Regions from separate parts of the Homo sapiens genome. Here region 2 is reported to be linked to region 1. The links are microRNA targets in miRTarBase. Many come from high-throughput screens and were not tested one by one. Region 1 holds a microRNA gene; the other region holds the end of a gene's coding sequence.
The links. Region 1 holds the annotated microRNA hsa-miR-4642 (AUGGCAUCGUCCCCUGGUGGCU, at 3,315-3,336, opposite strand). A microRNA usually pairs through its seed, bases 2 to 8, with sites in the 3' UTR of a target mRNA and lowers its output. Matches are read on the target gene's strand: a 7mer-m8 pairs with bases 2 to 8, a 7mer-A1 pairs with bases 2 to 7 and ends in A, and an 8mer does both.

Region 2: miRTarBase lists CRAMP1 as a target of hsa-miR-4642. Seed matches in the 3' UTR shown: 8mer at 4,311-4,318.

Annotation. Positions count from the first base shown.
Region 1 is chr6:44,429,183-44,438,985 of GRCh38, reverse strand. It overlaps MIR4642 (microRNA 4642), which reads right to left and starts at 3,345; the gene lies at 3,264-3,345. It overlaps CDC5L (cell division cycle 5 like), which reads right to left. Exons shown (of 16, transcript NM_001253.4): 14 at 9,076-9,273.
Region 2 is chr16:1,671,750-1,681,552 of GRCh38, forward strand. CRAMP1 (cramped chromatin regulator 1) reads left to right here. Exons shown (of 21, transcript NM_020825.4): 21 at 2,132-6,159. The coding sequence ends at 2,296. JPT2 (Jupiter microtubule associated homolog 2) reads left to right here and starts at 6,530. Exons shown (of 5, transcript NM_144570.3): 1 at 6,530-6,607. The coding sequence starts at 6,564. RefSeq lists silencers at 6,157-6,556, 6,587-6,946 and an enhancer at 6,387-7,022.

The DNA.
Region 1 (9,803 bases):
CTCTTTCTGAGGTGATGTAAATGTTCCAATAATGGTTGCACAACTATGTCAATTTACTAAAAGCCACTGAACTATACACTTTAAATTGTCTTAACTTTATGGTATGTAATTTATATCTCAGTAAGGATATTATAAAAATAAGGTATACAAGGAGTAGAAACATTACCTCCACAGGAGAAAAAAAAATTCCTCATCTTCAATTCTTCTGGATACAAAATGCAAAAATACTTTTCCCCAGAAATCAAAAGCAGTACTTTCTAAGTTCTAGAAAGGCAGTAGTGGGATGGAGTTAGAGTTTAAAAAAAAAAAAAAAAAAAAAAGACAAAACTTCCACCACATAAATTTTACAACACCATCAAGGAAAGAAGACAATAATTTGTACTCACTCTCTTCCACTTCAAATATTTCTGGAGTATGTCTTTTTACGCCAGTGGTTTTCAACCACAGCTAAACTTCAGAATTGCCAGTGGAGTTTTTAAAATCTACCAGCACCAGTGCCCTAACTCCAGAGACTCTGATTTAAATGGTCTCAGATCTTTGTGTCCTTAAAAACTCCCAAATGATTCTAACAGGCAATTAGGATGTCAAACTCTGTTTCAGCCAGAGTCATTACACAAGCTAGGTATCAGTTGTTTTCTCAACTATATCTACCAAAAAGTCCTCATTTCCAATAAGATATGAACAACTAAATCCATCAAGTTACATTCAAGTTCCTTCTTCTATAATTTAACATGTTCAGCCAGGCAACAGTGGTTCACACCTGTAATCCTAGCACTTTGGGAGGCCAAGGCAGGTGGATCGCTTGAGCCCAGGAGTTCGAGACCAACCTGGACAATAGAGTGAAACACTGTCTCTCAAAAAATACAAAAATTAGCCAGACATAGTGGCACATGCCTGTGGTTCCAGCTACTTGGGAGACTGAGGCGGGAATCACCCAAGCCTGAGAGGTTGGAGGCAGCAGTGAGCCATGATCGCGCCACTGCACTCCAGCCTGGTCAACAGAGAAAGACCCTGTCTCCAAAAAAGTAAAACAATTCAGCATGTTCTAAGAATACCCATTATTACATACTCCAATCACATTTGGATTCAAACACACATTCCAAAACCTTAACAGCAAAGAATTTCAAATTAATACATATAATGCTTTTTAAAAATTAATCATACGAATTAACATTTTCATTGATAACTCAGCTATACACTATGCTCCATGGATAGTCCATTTCCAGTTTGGTTTTACAGCATAATACCTATACTCAGAAACTGCTTAATTAGTCATCAAGGTACGTTTAGTATTATCAGTACCCTGTATCTTGGAATTACCTCACCTCATCCAATGGAGTCATTTCTTATACTCAAACCATCAGAGATTTTAAAACTTCAAAGTTGTTAGCTTTCCTTTAATGCCAACAATTTTATTTCATTTAGCTCAAGCTTTGCAAGTCTTCTGGCTCAAATATTGCGCTAAGGTTCCAAGCAAATATGGACATAAATTGTACAAAAATTAACTTAAGCACAGAAAAAAATTAATTTAGCCAAATAACTATATAGTCATTAAACATATAAAGAAGAAATGGACTACAGCTTTTAATATTCAAGTTGAACTTAGTTATCTTACGCCTGTCATTTGATTATTAAAACACAAAGGAGGGTATCTGCATGCTTTGTAAAATGCTCAACCTATGACTGCTCAATATGCTTTAAGAGGAAAAATCCTAACCTACAGTTTCTGGTCTTTTTCAAGCCAATAAACCTCAAGCATGAAATGTACATGCATACAGGGACAGGACTAGCTTAAATCAGCCCAGCTCCTCCCAACACCCATCCACACACAGAAACAACACTGAGGTACAAGAGAGTATAAAACTTTATTTCCTAAAATTCAAAGAAAAAGGGAAAATCAGACTCAGATTTAACCAGTCAGATTTCTAAATTAATTTTTTAAAACAAGCACTAGCAACTGCCCTGATGGACACCTTACTTTAGAAGCCACCACACTGTGCTTTAAATATGTACTGACAAAAAATTTCTAATAGTCTTAAATAAAATGAAGTTCACTATCACTGATAGGAATTTAAAGTAGACCGACACTTGATACAATTAAAGCTGACTTGATCAAATATGAAAGGGTAAACTTCAATTCAAAGCAGGAAATTAAGAATATATCCACATACAAATCGGTAGGAAGGCCAAGCTGACAAATTTCACGCACCGTAATTCTATTTCATAATACGGTATCTAAAATTTGCTTCAAAATAATAGTGGAAGGGGGGATAACAGGGGAAACAAGAGTGGCTATGATTGATGACTGTCATAGCTGGGTGAGAATACATGAGGATTTATTATACCAGTATACTCTGGGGTACATTTGAAAATTCTTATAAGATTTTTTAAAAGTCAAATTCAATATTGTATCTACTCTAAAGGCTACTTTCTCAAGACCATACACCACAAATCATGAAACATCAATGTAGTGAAATATAATGAGACATTAAAATTTACAAATATGTCAACTATTTCAACACACCAAAATGTATACATGAAATGTTAGATTAAAATCCACGATGTAAAATCTATTTACGCTAACCAAAATCTGAGTTTTAAGCTTCACTCAGTACAACAATCTCTCTCCTAAAATCAGCCCATGTCTAAAACTTCAGACATTCCTCAAAATTTACAGAATATAAAAACTTAGCCACCCGATTGTTTAAAGTGAGGTTAGTTCCTAATACCTCATAGTATCAAACCAAGTATAATCCAATTTAGGTAACTCTAAGGGTGATATAGACTTGAAGACACATGGGAGGAGAATTCCCATTTACTAACACCTGCTATTTGCTAATCATACAGTATCTCATTTAATCTTATATTATCTCAAACTCATGCTTCCATCAAATAAAAACAATTACTCGGCTGGGCACGGTGGCTCACACCTGTAATCCCAGCACTTTGGGAGGCCAAGGTGGGTGGATCACTTGAGGTCAGGAGTTCAAGACCAGCCTGACCCATGGTGAAACCCGTCTCTACTAAAATACAAAAATTAGCCGAGCGTGGTGGCAGGCACCTGTAATCTCAGCTACTTGGGAGGCTGAGGCAAGAGAATTGCTTGAACCCTGGAGGCAGAGGTTGCAGCGAGCCAAGATCGTGCCATTGCACTCAGCCTGGGCAACAGGAACAAAATTCCATCTCAAAAAAAAAAAACAAAAACTATTACTCACCCAATTTTACAGATAAGGAAATGTGAGACCCAGAGAGGTTAAGTAGGGCACAACTGCTGGCATCATCACTGAGTGGCTTTGTGGCTTGCCCTAGGCCACAGCCACCAGGGGACGATGCCATGCAGTTGTGCCCTATTTGAAAGTCCAATACACTGGTCACACCACTGCTAATAAACTGACTGTCCCCCTCCTTGGCTCAGCCCCCTGAAATGCAAACATGCCTGAAAAAATTTAAGCTGTGGAAATGAATGGCTTAAATTTCACCAGACAGCTCCCTGAAAAATAAATTATTCTAGACACATGTAAACAAGAAATAAGACCTTAATTAGCAATTCTGCCCATCATTCTTACCCTGATTTAGACTCTCACCTACATGTACCCACTTATAAGAATTTTGACACCTGAGAAAAGCTTTTACTTTCCTCAGTTTGTATTTTAAAATTCTAAATTCTTTTATTAACAAGCTATAAAACTATAAGAAAACAAATATCTCTCAAAAAAATTATACAGAAAAAAAGGTTCCACTTACCACCTTTTTAGAAGTAGGGTGGAATATAACTAGTGTTTAATCATATTTACAACTATTAAATGAAAAATGTAGAATATGATCCCAGTTTAGTTTTAAACACCTTCATCCAAACATTTAAAAAAAAAAAAAAGATATATGGGAGTATGTGGGGGCAGGGGGGGCGGGGTGCATATATACACCACAATGTTTAAGGTGATTATGTCTGGATAGTAGGTTCCTTTTCTTATGTTTTCTACTTCTTTTAAAACTTCTACAAAGCACAGGTATTATTTATAGAAAGACGCCTAGAAATGTTATTTTTTTAAATGCATAGAAGAGAAACTGTCTAAAAAAGACTGGCCAGAGACCAATGGAAAACTGATGGTCCCCAGGAGATGAATCAGTGGAACCATAAGTGTTTCCTCGGGTCATTACAAAAGGGAGCTGTATGGGACTTATGAAAGTGTAACTGTTACTTTCAAGCTAAGTTTGTTAAGGTTACTAAGCTTAAGTAATTCCAAAATAAACACATTATCCTTGGGTCTCCAATACTGTCTTCAGTAAAAGTCCGTTACAGTGAGGTTCAGAAACATTAAGAGCACCCCTCACTGAAACTCTTGCTTGGGGGCCCAGAATATAACCTTATACCACTGGAAAAACAGGTTTAAGGATACCCAAAATAAACAGGCAGTCAATGGGAGCTCCACTTCCCAGTCCATCAATCAGCAATATGATCCCATATAATAGTCAAGATGTGGTTCAATCACCAAAACATTTGCAAACAACAGGAGTCTATGAGTGATTCTCCTTTAATCTCTATACCAATTACCAGCATTTTTATCAGTGAACCTTCTCTACTCTGATGAGACGCAGGTCCAAGAAAGTAATTATTGTTTGCATCTATGAGTTAGCAACCATCAGATTGCATCCCTGAAAAGCATGCTAACCAGGAAGGCAAAACCTTACTAAAAACCTTTATAAGGACAGTAATACATGAACAAAGCAATACAAGAGCACTGTACATCTGCATACATTAGGAAGTGAAATACGTAAACTGCATAAAACAAATTCAATTCATGTTGAGGCATAACAGAAGCAACCTGGTTGTATCAGGATGTCTGTTCCAGCTCATAAAGTTCTTACCAGAGACAACTACGAAATCTGTCAGTGCCTATAAGGGTCATAGCAAAGAACAGAATTTGGGAAAGAGAGAGTATTCCAAAGTACTGTGAATTCCTCTCCTGTACCACAAGTCACTTCCCCCACCTCTACACAAGGCAACATAAGCATAAACCTGCTGATATCTGACAACATATAGCACTCTACCCAGAACTGTCTACTAACTAAATCCTTGCCCTAAGTTTTCCCTCTTTAAAGTATTAAGGAAATTTTTTCCTGTGTAAAAATATCTGACTTTATAATGAAAATCACTGAGAAAATGAGATCTACTGTGCAGCCAATTTTGCAGAAATATAACCTTCAGACAAGTCAGGGGTCCTCATAAGAGCTACAAGTACACTGAGAAGGATTTTAAGTGTGTTATCTGTGTTCTTTAAGTTACTTTACTTCTAAGAAGTCTATGTTATATAATATTTCTTGACTACAGTTGACTGTGCCAGTAAATTACAGGGAGAAGTAGTATTACTTCTGGACCTATTTTCTATCTCTAAGGAAAGCCTTTCCATTTTTACAGCTAACGTGACAAAATCCACTTTTCAGCCAAACTTCCTCAACACAGCAGTTTAGATACTATTTCAAATACTATTAAATTTAACGGCATGCCTAAATTCAGACTTCTCATTTCACTTTTGCACCCACTGGAAATTATTTCACTCAAAATAATTATGTCTTCAGATGATTTCCTATTTCCACTTAAAGTAGAAACAAATTAGAACACTTAAAATTCTATTTGCACTTCCCAAATACAGTAATGACTCATTTATCTGGCATCATCAGAAAACGAGGTTCTCCACACATTAAGCATTTTCCAGGTAACTGAAGCCCACAAACACAGAGAACTTGTCTGCCTTGTTCCTTGCTGTTATCCCCAGGACCTAGAACAGTATCCAGTACGTGGTAGATAGGCAGTAATAATTACTGAATGTGTGAATAAATAAAAGTACTAAAGCTCTTTTATTTTTAACCATTTGTGAAAATGTTTCCTACACTGAATTATAGCCATCCCGCCCTTTTAAAAAAACATGACACTGAAAAGAAATAAAGTTTTTCTTATTAATTTGGGATACCACTATAAATAGCAATCACTTTACTCCCCTGCAATGTATCTTAGTGTCTTTAAAGCTATTAAAATACACTGGGCTTTTTGCCACCATGTAAAAATGGACACAGCATGGTATGCTCTCATAACTTTTCCTTTCCTTATATTAACTGTCATTGCTGTGTTTGCTCTTGCTGTCTTATTTTACACACAAAAGTCTGGCAAGGTTCTAAACTCAATTCTGCCTCCAAAGCAGAATAAAATACATGGACTTGGTTACAATTCAGAAGTCTTTTCCACTTATTTCTGACCTGTAACTGCATTCTGATTCTATTTATTTAACAAACTCCTTGCACACACACATCCTCTACCACATTCTACATAAAATCTGAGATGGTTCTATTAGTTTTAAATGAGTATCTTAAGGATTTTCACTTAAGTGCTAAGTTTCAAATATTAATCATGAGTAATGAATGGCTCAAAGACTACCTCCAATATAAACCTCAGGGCATTTTTTTTTTTTAATCCATTCAGGAGACACCAGCCACGACAAAGCTGGACTTCATCTTGCTTGATAGGCAGTGATAGGGCCATAATTTAGATTCACGGTTCCAAAGTTCATGGCAGCAAAAATCAAACACACTGGCAGCCATGGCATACAGTGCTTACAGAGAAGGGCTTATCTCCTGAACCTAAGAGTGGAAAGGATAATTTAAGTATAGCATTTAGTTTATACAATATAACTGGAGTTCCTTCCCCACAACAAACTTTGAATAATGTTTATAATTTAGCAATCAACTGAAATGAAAGAATTACCACAATTGAAATAAAATATTTATGTATTTCAAACCAATAGAACTGTGTCTTCAAAAACTAAAACAAGCTAAAAGAAACCTAGTTCTGAATTAGTGATGGATACAAATAAAATGGGGGTTTGTTTATTCAAGTCTTTGAGCTGCTTTTCTTTTTTTAAAAGATTTCATGAACTTTCATTTGAAATAAGCACAGTTTACCAAATTAAAGGACTTGATTAAGTATTCTTTAAAAGTAACTAGCTGGGTAAACAATAAAGTAAGTTATCCAAGAGTCAAGAAAAGAAAAATGACTTCAGACTGCTTTATGAATATTCTCCAAAATCACCAATCCTTCAACAAAAATAGTTCAACGGAAGATTTCAGTTCCTGGTACTGAACTGAACAAAGAGAACCACATGTTTTTAATGGTTGCTCATAAACGACCCAAATAAATCTCCAAAAGAACAGGAGTGGCTCTTTCTGTATTTTTCCCTTTAAAATTCATAAGACCAATTCAACACAGAAATAAAAATTACTGTACTTTATGGCACCACTCACTGTGTGACACATTTATTTGCTGTCATGAAAGTTAGTACCTCAACAAAGTAAATGAGATTTAGGGAGAAAAAAATTTTCTACCATTTAAAAAAGCACAAAATGTTCTTGCCATTTGCGGCAAAAAGAGTTTACCCACCTCAAATGAGAAGATTTTCATACTAAGTAAGAAACCTAAGTATTTATATATAAATAATACAAAGAAGCTTTCCAAATAGCTTTTCAATCAGTGATGATGCTGATATTAGATCACAATTACACTGCTAACTACCATTTATAAGAAATGAAGCCTACACAACAAAAAAATGTAACTTACAATTTAACCACTGATGTTCTATTTTCCCTGGCTTTAACACTGAACCACAACACAGAGCAACAGCACACCCTGCTGGAAGTTGGTAATACAAATAATTAGCAGCACTGAACTAAGATTTTACCCAAGATGAGAATTACTTCAGAACCAGTCATTTCTCACTGAGAAAAAAAGAGGTTCACAGGCATTAACCATCAGCTACCTATATATATGTGATCTTAATGGTTAAATTAAAACTCAGAATAACTCAAATTAAAAGATACTGCTTTTTCCTGCTCATTTCCTCAGCCCCATACAGCCCCAACCACCCCAAGTGATTTTACTACTTCTGGCTTTAACCCTAAATAAAAATATTTTCAAATGCACTTTTTGTAAAGAGAAACTGGTAATCACATAAAAGAGGAAACCAAGACGATTTTCTGTATATGACTGCCTGAAGTACCCCTTCTCTCCCATCCCACCTTGGCCTTAGAAATGCCCCTAAAGATTACCATTAAAAATGCACAAGGCATAGCCGGGCATGGTGGCTCACGCCTGTAATCCCAGCACTTTGGGAGGCTGAGATGGGTGGATCACGAGGTCAAGAGATCAAGACCATCCTGGCCAACATGGTGAAACTCTGTCTCTACTAAAAATACAAAAATTAACTGGGCGTGGTGGGGCGTGCCTGTAGTCCCAGCTACTAGGGAGGCTGAGGCAGGAGAATCGCTTGAAACCAGGAGGTAGAGGTTGGAGTGAGCCAAGATTGCACCACTGCACTGCAGCCTGGCAACAGACTGAGACTAGGTCTCAAAAAAAAAAAAAAAGAATGCACAAGGCAGCCTGGTGGTCTGTGAACCACAATTTACATGCCATTGGCAAAATGCCTACACAGATTCTGGAATTCAAAATATGCAAACTATATTAAGAAACCACATGTCCTGAAACTGCATCTAGTATGTTTTCAACATTTTCACAGACATGAAAAATCATGGAAGCCACTAACTAGATAATCCAGCTCTGCCCTCCCTAACTCAAACTCACAGTAATCCAAGGATGAACAGAATTGTATTTAAGTTTTGTAAATGTACTCTCTTTGTTATAAAAAGAAAACTCCTCGTTACTGCTGAGATTCCTCTTCAGAGAAAACAGGCTATGCTAGCAATGACCTGCCTGTTCTGAGTGACTAGTATTGGCTTCTTGGCTCCTTGCTCCCACATCTAAAGGTTCTGATTGACCTCTGGTCAACTTGCAGGGCACTCTTTAGTCATGAAGGCCAACAATTCTTTAAAAAAAAAACAAAAACAAAACAAACAAAAAAAAACAATGAACAAGGCCAAGAAGATCCAACACTTAAGTGTAGTTTTCTCCAACAACTAAAAAGGCAATAAGCACCTCAGGTGTGTTTTTCTGACATTGTCTCCAGTGGCATTATTTAGTTCATTATCTCAATCAAAGTACATTTAAAATTAAAATTTTAAAAGGATACCAACCTCGAGCCTCTTTTCAAGTGATTCAATTCTGTCCTTTTTACTAGCCAGATTGGCCCGTGTGTAGCGGCTCTGCCCAGGAAGATATAAAACTTGACTGTAGCATTCTTCCCACACCTGGTTATAAGCTTCACTTGAGAGCTCTCCATGGCTCATTCCTTGTTTAACCACTTCCATCTCCTGCACCAAAACATCCTGGGCCTGTTTACAATAATAATTTCAATAAGTTTAAGTACTACAAACACTTGCCATATCCAGAGAGCTTTAGAAGACTAATTTTTTCCCTCATGCCTTGAGTCAAATCCAAGATGTGGTTGGTTGTTTTTTGGAAGGGTGGATAACAATACCTAGGAAAAATAGCTTAAGAAGCCTTTGAGTCAATGCAGACTGCTTTTTAAAAATCAAGCATCCATGTTTCCTCAAAAGTATAAACATCCTTTGCTTTCACTCACTATAACAGCAGCTATCATTTCTCAGGTACCTATTGTGTGTGTGAGAAACTAGGTTTAAAAGTTTTACCTACATTATATCCAAAGATCATAATCACCTTACAAATTAGCCAATATTAACCTCATTTAAAAGCTAATGAAATTTGGCCAGGCACGGTGGCTCCCTCCTATGATCCCAGCACTTCGGGAGGCTGAGGTGGGCGGATAACGAGGCCAGGAGTTCAAGACTAGCCTGGTTAACACAGCAAAACCTCGTGTCTACTAAAAATGTAAAAATTAGTA
Region 2 (9,803 bases), not on the chromosome of region 1:
AAACAGCTGTTTCTCACGGACACCTCCGCTACCCAGTATCCGAATGTGAATCGTGACTCTTGAGATGATGAACTCATGGGCAGGCTTTGGAGAATTCCAAGCCAAGCCATGATATGACTGGAAATTTTAGCCAAATATACACATAGACACAATTAATAGCGTAGACCTCCATCTCACAGTGTGTGGCGTTTCTCAAACCTGTTTGGCCCCAGAATCATTATTCAGGGCACACCTTGGACTCTGATGTTTCCCGAGAAGCCAGTCTCTGTCTCTTCCCCTGTTTGTGCGCATGTTCCTAAGTGCTGGGCTCTGTGGAGATGGGCGCTGCGTACGTGCCCTGAGGCAGCATGCTCACGCCATGCTGTTGAAAGGACGGGCCACAGCCCAGTGACAGGAGCCCCTTGGAGTCAGAAATCCAGAGTGTTAGCCTCACCCCAATCAGAATTTGCACCTTTAATAAAATCCTGGGCAACAGATGGCACTTGGGAGTGAGTAGCAGAGAAAGGGTGCAGTTAGTATTTGTGAAACGCTGCCCGTCGCGAGTAATGCAAACGTGTTCACCTTCAGAAAGAGCAGATCAGCGTTTAGCATGAGATTTTCCCGAGAGCCCTCCACTCAGAACGTGAGTATGTTTCTCAGCAGGTCCTCGTCATCTGGAAGGATGGGCTGAGGCATTTGTGGATGAAAGGGTCTGGTGGTAGGGCTAGCATGAAGGGGGCGGGGGTGGAGCTGGGTGGCCCTGGGATGAAACGGGTGGGAGCTGCTGATGGACATACAGGGGAAGGAGAATTACTCTTTGCTCTGCTTTTGAAAACAAATTTTAATTTGTCTGACATTTCCCATAATCAAAGCATAAAATTTCATTTACGCCATAGCTCTATTCAGAATTTTCCAGACTTCTTGCATTCACAGTGTCATGCAGTTCATTAAGGGATATTTCTGCAGGGTCTGCTGTGTGCAAACAATGGCCCCTGTCCTCATGAGGCTTCTACTCTAGAGCAGGACGCAGACAATAAGCGCTGAAAACGGCACATTCTACGTATTTGCTCATGGGACAAGATCCCGGTGCCGAGGCCCTCCCGTCCTCCGTCTCCTCAGCTCTGTGCTGCCTCACTCACTCTGTCATGGCCACCACCTTGGTCGTGCTTTTCAGTCAAAGCCTCTTCCTGTCTCAGGGAACATGCCTGTTGCTTCTTTAAAAAGGAACGTACTCCCCATGTGTCCTCATGTCTCTGACGGGAACGTGCTCCCCACATGTCCTCAGGACTGATGGGAACGTGCCCTCACCACATGTCCTTGGGATTCTGACGGGATCGTGCCCTCCACCTGTCCTCATTTCTCTGACGGGAACGTGCCCCCAGCTCTCCTCATGTCTCTGATGGGAACGTGCCCCCAGCTGTCCTCATGTCTATGACGGGAACGTGTCCCCCACCTGTCCTCATGTCTATGATGGGAACGTGTCCCCCACCTGTCCTCATGTCTGTGATGGGAACGTGCCCCCCACCTGTCCTCATGTCTCTTGACGGGAACGTGTCCCCCACCTGTCCTCATGTCTATGACAGGAACGTGTCCCCCACCTGTCCTCATGTCTGTGACGGGAACGTGTCCCCCACCTGTCCTCATGTCTATGATGGGAATGTGTCCCCCACCTGTCCTCATGTCTATGATGGAAACGTGTCCCCCACGTATCCTCGGGTTTTACCCCACCTCCCGCTCAGGTCCCAGTCCTTGGAGCACCCTCTCTGGCCTCCTTTTCCCGGCACTCTCTGTCCCCTCACTCTGCATCTGTTTCTGCAGGCTGCCCCCAGTGCCTGTGTCTGCTGCATACAGTCTGTCTACCTGTTGGGTGTCTTCCCCCATAGGTCTCATGGCGGGCGGGGGGACCAGCACCCTCACCCCAGCCATCAGATGTGCCAGGCACATCATAGGCTCTCTGCGAGCACTTATCTAAAGAGTGTGCGGGCAGACGACAGGTGATTGTGATTCTGCACAGAGCCCTGGGCTGCCATCCCTAGCTTAGCTTCCTGCAGCGGGAGTCGATAGGAGCTTCTCGTCCTGTTTCAGGACCCGCCCTCCACTGAAGGGCCAGCAGGTCGCGGTGACTTGTTCTTCCTGTCTCCTCTTCCTGCAGGTTGTGGATTCCCAGCTGGTGTGCATGATGAACGAAAACAGCATTGATTACATTTCTCGGTTCAATGACCTGGCCCAAGAGCTGTCCATCGCTGAGCCTGGCCGCCGAGAAGCTCTGTTTGATGGTGGTGGAGGCGGCCCCGCTGTCAGTGACCTGTCCCAGTGACCACACGTCCTGGTGGCGGATGAAGCCCTCTTCGAGCTAGAGAAAAATAGATAAGCCCAGCAGCCCCAGAAGATGGTCTGAACAGAGGCATCTCCGCACCCAAGACTGTGCAACGGGCAGGAACGTGGTCACAGAGCTGCTTCCCCACGAGCAGCAGGCAACGGCGTCCAAGGAGACTAGGATGAGTTCTTGGCAAGGGCCAGCGTTAGAAATCACTGTGGTACTAGAGCCGTTCTTCACCACGCCTGGGCCCATGTTAGGGTCTGCATAATGATCCCATTTCAGCCTGTGCTCTGCCTCGATTGTTGTGTTGGACATTCCGGTGGCATTTCCTTCTGAGACAAGGGAGTATGTGTGCCTTGGTGTAGTTGCTGTGCACTAGGAGCTGTGATCTCCCTCTCTGCAGGGAGGCCCCAGCCCCTGCTGCTTGCTTTCTGCCAAACCTGTGCTATGCATCAGCTGTGCCCTCTGTGGACTGTAACGGGCAGGACAGTTGGGTGTGGCCTGGGCTCATGCCTGGTGGTGTCACATCCCAAGGCAGCAAGAGCATGGATACCGATCACAGGGCTGCTGCGGAGTCGTGGGGCCCTGGGCTGGTGCCTCCCCTCCCTAGAGGTTTTGTTCGTACTCTTAACAGGGAGTGGGGGCAGGAAGAGTCCTGTACTATGCAGGTTGTGTGGACTTTACATGGGACCCTGCTAAGCTGGTTGAAAATGTTTTTCTTGTGTTTTAAGAATTAGGAGACATGGAAGAGGAAGAACAAAGTCCCCTCTGTAGTTGGTTTCCTTCCTGTGTCCCTTTGCAAGCTTCCAGGCGATCTAAGGTGTCATTTCTCCCTCCTGGGGTGACCCTTAGGCGCTAATATGATTACAGCGAAGACTTTCCTGATAAGTTCTCAAACTCGATGTGTGACTGTTTGGCACTTGAGACAAACCTGCCTTTGCAGGGAAAGTGTCTCTCACGGGCATTGGTGTGGGCGTGCCTGACATACGTGTTCAGTCCCTTGCATACCTTTGCCTTGAGACTTCTGTGTCTCCTTCCCATTTGGGACACCCAGGTGAGGGCCCAGACATCTGGATGTGGTCAGACCTCACCAAATATATGCCTTCGTGGTGGTCTCCCTCCTTGCGCCCTCTTGGGTGGCCAGCGTTCCTACTGCAGACGGCCCAACATCCAGTCTTTCCCCAGGACAGAGCTAACAAGGGCCCCTTTGCCTTCTCATCCTCAGGAGTTCCAGGCACATGAGTCACCGTCCATCCACATCCAGTGTGGCCTGGAGCTGCTACAGAGGTGTTGGGCAGGCCATGCCTGTGCCGCCATCTCTCCCTTCCTGCCTCATTTCATCCCCCGCAGCAGCCGGGATTGATTGTGCTTTCCTAACCCCCTTGGACCTACTCTCCCTCCTCCCCACCATTCCTCTTCCCCCACATGTGTGGCACGCTGCAGCCCTCAAGGCCAGCCCTGGCCCCTCCACTGCTTCTCTCCCCATCCACAATGGAGAAGGTGAAAAGAGGAGGGAAAGGCCTTTGGTGTGGACAAGCATGTGGACGCCCTCCGTCCTGCAGTCTTGCCAGCCCACCACAGCCACTGTAGACCACAGGCAGGCCGTGTACTGCACCACTGGGAGGACGTGGAGAGGACAGTGAACTTCCAGGCAAGAGCTTCCTTCTTTTGTCTCACGAGTTTTTCTTAGAGCTCTTGCCTGAGCTGGCTTCCCTCCTTCAGACATTGACATGAGATCTTAAGCAAACAGTCCCAAACCTCTTAGGGGTGAAAAAAGAAACATGCCACTTGATTAGGAGAGAGACAGCAGTGTTTGAACTACAGCATCTTTACACTAGCTTGTGTTTTGTGCTACGTATACCAGCTTCCAAAATTAGCATCTCATTGAGCCAGAGAAGACAAGGAGATCTCCCTCTGGGCATCTGGCTTTGCTGCGTCTCTAGAGGGTTAGGATACCAGGCCGAGTTCAGGCCACTGCTAGCTTTCTCATACTCCCACAGGCTAGACCAGAGATGCCAAGTCCCAACAGCACTGAGCTGTGTGCACTGTGCCAGGGACAGGAGGGTTTGTGAACTGCCTGTCAGGGTACCTGTTAGCCCCTGACAACTCAGTGGGGTGAAGTTTTGGAGGTCAGAGTCTGCTTTCGTAGGCTCTTTAGACAGCACCTACCACTTGGTTCTCCAGCGTAGACTCCTGGGAGCAGCCAACTGCAGCCATTGCCATCCAGTGGGGAGATGGGTTAGGGAGGAGGACGGGCTGACTCCTCTCCTGTAATAAAGCTGACAAGAGTTCTAGAGGATTCTGCTTCTCTAGTAACTAGACAGGTGATACGCATTTGCTTGCCACATTAAGGGAAAATGGTGTCATTTGTTGCAGAAAAACAATGGATACATTTTCTTCTGGCCTAAATGAATATTTATGTGCAAACATAGGCAACTGTTAAAGGCTGGAATTTTCAAAAGATCCAAACAGAGACTTCCTGCATCTTCTGCCTTTCCAACAGAAGCGGTGATCGTCTAAGTATGAGCCTGTGGCTTCCTTTGTGCATTTGAGCATGCTGTAATTAAGATGAGATCAGTTTCTTAGAAAAAGCTTTCCTGAATCCCTCTGACGTTGCCTGGGATCTTTCTGTTGATTCGTCTTTTCTGGAGATTGGGACAGAGCATCTGTGGTCCAGGGAAGTTAGTCCTCTGGCCTCAATTCTGTTGTGGATGTGCAGTGATAAGCGGGCATTGCGTGCCTCGGGGGATGCCTAGTTCGTGGCTTCCTGGCTGTTTTGTCCTTCTGTGTCTTGTAGCTGTAGGGTGCCAGCTCAGGGAGTGGGGTGTTGGCGGCGTTTCCGCGGTTGGCCTCCTTGCTTTGCCGCACCTCCAGGTTCTGGGCATGAGAGGCCGTGGCCTCATTTCTGGTGGATAACCTTTTTAGTTTAATAGCATCTTTAATTAGATCACAGCATTGAATTCAAAATTTCTTCTGCAAAGAAAGTTGTGGGGCATAAGACACCGGGAATGAGGGAGGAGGAAGACAGTTGTGTTTTCTCTTTAAACCTTGAGCTCTAGCCGATGCATTTGTCAGGAAATACAGCACTTTGTCTTAAGAAAACAAGGAAGGAGGCCGGGCGCAGTGGCTCACGCCTGTAATCCCAGCACTTTGGGAGGCCGAGGCGGGCGGATCACCTGAGGTGGGGAGTATGAGACCACCCTGACTAACATGGAGAGACCCTGTCTCTACTAAAAGTACAGAATTAGCCGGGCGTGGTGGCGCATGCCCATAATCCCAGCTACTGAGGAGACTTGAGGTAGGAGAATCACTTGAACCTCAGCGGCGGAGGTTGCAGTGAGTCGAGATCGCGCCAGTGCACTCCAGCCTGGGCAAGAAGAGCGAAACTGGGTCTCAAGTTAAAAAAAGAAAGCAAGGAAAGAGTAATTTACAACGAAGGAAAAAAACCCACAGCACACCCTTCGCGGCTGTCAGCGCTCTCCTGATGTCACAGTGGCTGCGTGTCCTTGGGGTGGGTGAGGTGTGGGGAGCCCAGCCCCTGGCCCTGCCTCCCGCGCCCCGCTCCCCTTCTCTCTCTTACTCGGTTAAGCCATAGCGAGGCCTCCGCTCGTTTCAGATATGAATTTGTTTTATAGATTATAAATATGCATATACAGTGTATGTATAAAGCAGAATGCCTGCCTTTCCTGGTTATTTTTTGTACCATATTGTAAATTATATTATTTATTCTTTACCAATTTTGGGAATAAAAGGTGTTTTGGTTATTTAATATAATAAGAGCTGTTAAACTTCTGTTTAAATTTCCAGTTCAACTTGTAAATGTTTTTATTGTGCATAAATACATACTAATGTTGATCTAAGGACTGTCGTTTGTGCCTGTTCTTCAGGGCCGCGCGCCCATGCCCGCAGTCCCTGGTCGGGCAGGTGCGGCCCAGGTGCGGCCCCGCGGTCGGCTCGCGGGCTCCCGCAGACCGGGCTTCCTCCCGAGGGCGCGGCCGTCCCAGGGCCCGCCCGGCCCGCCGCCCAATGCGAGCTCCCACCTCCGCGAGCGGCGTCGCCTTCCCCAATCGGCTGCGGGCGCGGCGCCGACCGTTCAAAGCCTAAGTCGTCGGGGGTGGGCGTGAGGGGCGGTGGCCGCGCTGAGATAGGCTGCGGAGGGATGATTGGCGTCTTGGCGCCCAATGGGCGCTGGCGGGCGGCCTTGAGTACCTGCGCTGGGCGGGCGGGAACGGCGCGCGGCGAGCTGAGGGTGGCGGCGGTCGACATGTTCCAGGTCCCGGATAGCGAGGGCGGCCGCGCCGGCTCCAGGTGCGGCGCGGGGCACACGGGAGGCGGGCGGATAGCGCGACCACGTGGCGGGAGCGGGCCAGCCCAGGGCGTCCACCAGCCGTGTGGGGTTGGGGTGGGGTTGGGGGGCAGGGCGACCTCACAGAGGCCCTCGGGGCCGCCGCCCGCCTTTCTGCGCCGCCGCCAGACCGAGGCCCGAAGCCCGAGGGGCCGCTCGCTGAGGCCCGGGCTGTGGAGAGCTGCCCGCGACCGAGGCCGAGGGCGGGGAGGGGCGCCCGGGCTCTGGGAACAAAGCTGTGTGGAGGGCGGGCTGCGCTCCCTCGCGCCTGGGCGCCCGCGTTCCGTGTGGTGCGTTCCGTGGGGGGTTTCCTGGGGGCGGGGTGTGCCCGTGGGTGCGGCCCATTTTGTCTGTGGGATGCGTGTCCATGTTCCCGGGGGGGTGTCCCTAAGGGGTGTGCGGCGATGTGTTCGTGGGGGGTGTCTGGCCATGCCCCCGCTCCTGTGCGTGTGGCCGTGTGCCCGTGTCCCTGGTGTGTGTGTGGCCTGTGCCCTGCCCATGGCCGCGCTTCCACTAGTTCATGTGAGTCCACTTCCTTTGGAAAGTGCCAGGGCGTCTGGGGAAGAGTCAGTTCTATCTCCTGGGAAGGTGGATGGCGCTCCTGGGCTTCGCTGTAGGAAGAAGTGGATTGGGACGAAGATATCCTGACTCAGCTTTAATAGCCAGGAACACTGAGCACACTTTTCTTATGTTTTTGAACTTTTAAAGCACTCTTTGGGTATTGGGACTCGCATGAATTAGAGGGACAGAGCTTACAAGGTCTTTCGTGCCACTTGAGCAGTAAACTTGCATTGTGAAGTTTGGGTCTTCAGATGCCTGAGGTTTTCTGTATGATGAGCCCCTCTGTGGCACAGCCTCGCCAGAGAAGTAGAAGAGAATATGTGTGCCATGACTGTTAAGACCAATACTATATTGCTTCTCAGCCTTTTGGCTATGATCAAGTGAAGACAAATACTATATTGAATAAATACTAAGTAAAAGAATTGCTCCAACTTGCTAAAAATAAAAACCCTTTAGATTGGCCGGGCGTGGTGGCTCACACCTGTAATCACGGCACTTTGGGAGGCTGAGGTGGGCGAGTCACGTGAGGTCAAGAGTTCGAGACCAGCCTGGCCAACATGGTGAAACCCCCGTCTCTACTAAAAATGCAAAAATTAGCCAGGCGTGGTGGTGTGTGCCTGTAGTCCCAGCTACTTGGAGAGGCTGAGACAGGAGAATCACTTGAACCCAGAGGCAGAGGTGGCAGCGAGCCAAGATAATGCCACTGCACTCCAGCCTGTACGACAGAGCAAGACTCCGTCTCAAAAAAAAAAAAAACCCTTTAGATTTGAGGGAGTTAGGTCAGTATTCAGTAATACTTGTAACCAAATAATTACCCGTGGCAGGGTGCAGTGACTCAACGGCTGTAATCCCGGCACTTGGGGAGGCCGAGGCAGGTGGACCACGAGATCAGGAGATCGAGACCATCCTGGCCAACACGGTGAAACCCCGTCTCTACTAAAAATACGAAAAAATTAGCCGGGTGTGGGGTGGCGGGTGCCTGTAGTCCCAGTTCCTTGAGAGGCTGAGGCAGGAGAATGGTGTGAACCCGGGAGGCGGAGCTTGCAGTGAGCCGAGATCACACCACTGCACTCCAGCCTGGATGACAGAGCAAGACTCCGTCTCAAAGAAACAGCCCTTCATCCATGGAACAGTGATTATTATGCCTAGGTCTGCACCGATGTGGGACCAGGAGTTTAAACTAGTGCTCAGAGCGAATCCGGTTTCTGGTTCCTGGTGGCCAGAGTTTTGCACCACCCACATCAGTGGGGGGAGGGACTGCATCCCCAGCCCTGTCCCAGTTGTGTGCATTTAGTACGTTTCCTTTTTGTTTGTGCTGCCTGGCACTGGCTGCCCGGTAAATGATGGTGTTTATTATCACCCTGAGCGACGCCGATGTTTTTATATTGACTTTCACGCTCCAGAAGTTAGCTGCACAGGGCCGCACTAAAGTCATACTCACACTACCCTGGGGGACTGGTTTCTGGACAAGGTGTTGAGAAAGGGAGAAAACTCTTCCTTTTAGGATGGTGAGGAAGGAAAGCCGGTCTGAACTGGATGATGAGGTATCACTGGAAGCTTCTGCTTGGGGTCCACCAGACGCTGCACATTTGCCACTCATCTGAACGGGGTCGAGTCGCAGGGCGGGCGCCTTGTAAGCGTCACATTTAGTTTTGCTGTGAAGCGAGTCAGGTGGTGGCTGTAAGATTACCTAGCCAGGTTTTCCTCTCCTGAGACCTCACATCTCTCCTTTCCTTGCTGAGGGATTGTCTTGTGTTAAAGGGGTTTCGTAAAAGCGTTATGCTTTAGCCGCGATTAACCTGAGGTCTTCCTTCAAGCTGGAACATTTCTATTTGTAAGGAATTTAATCCAAGTTTATTTCTCACTGCTTCTCTCTAAGCCTGACCAGTCCCCTCATCCTTTCTGAAACTCGGGGACAAACTATTAGAGAGGGTCAGGAGCATGGAGACCCCCGAGGAGGGTCACACAGCTTTTCCCTACCTCTCCAGTGCTGCAGTCCACTCCAGCTGTGTGAGGTTTTTCTTCTCCTGTGCGCTTGAGTTTCTCTTGTGTGTTTTGAATATCTTCACTGAAATATATGGAAGGGGTACCACAAAAGGCAAAAAATAATTGGGAAGCACCCCCCACTCACATTGTGAATTTGTCCCCAAATGTGTGAGCTCTAGCGTTCCCCCTCCCCCTATTAGTGTCATAGTGGTAAGTGCCTGTAGCCTAGAGAAAGCCACACTGCGCCATTGTTGTCGGGCTGTTTTTGTTGAAAGGTCTATTGAACGCTCAGTTCCATTCATCCGAGACCCCTTTGAGGCAGCCCAGCCCTGCGGTCTGTGTGAAACCTGCAGTGGGACCTGTTGCCTTTGTGACCGAGATAGCCGCTGCCCCTTGCCTGGGGCTGGGCCTGTGTGCGCCATAATTTCTGCTAAAACCGTCTTTGGTACCACTTTTTTTTCTTTGCTTGTTTTCAAATAAAATTCAGAAAAGCACATAGAACAATATTAAATATTGTGTTTCCATCACCCCAAAGTAACACTGGTCATTGCAAGTAACTACCACTCACCTCCTGCGCCCATTGGTCCCCATTCCACATGGAGGCCACAGACT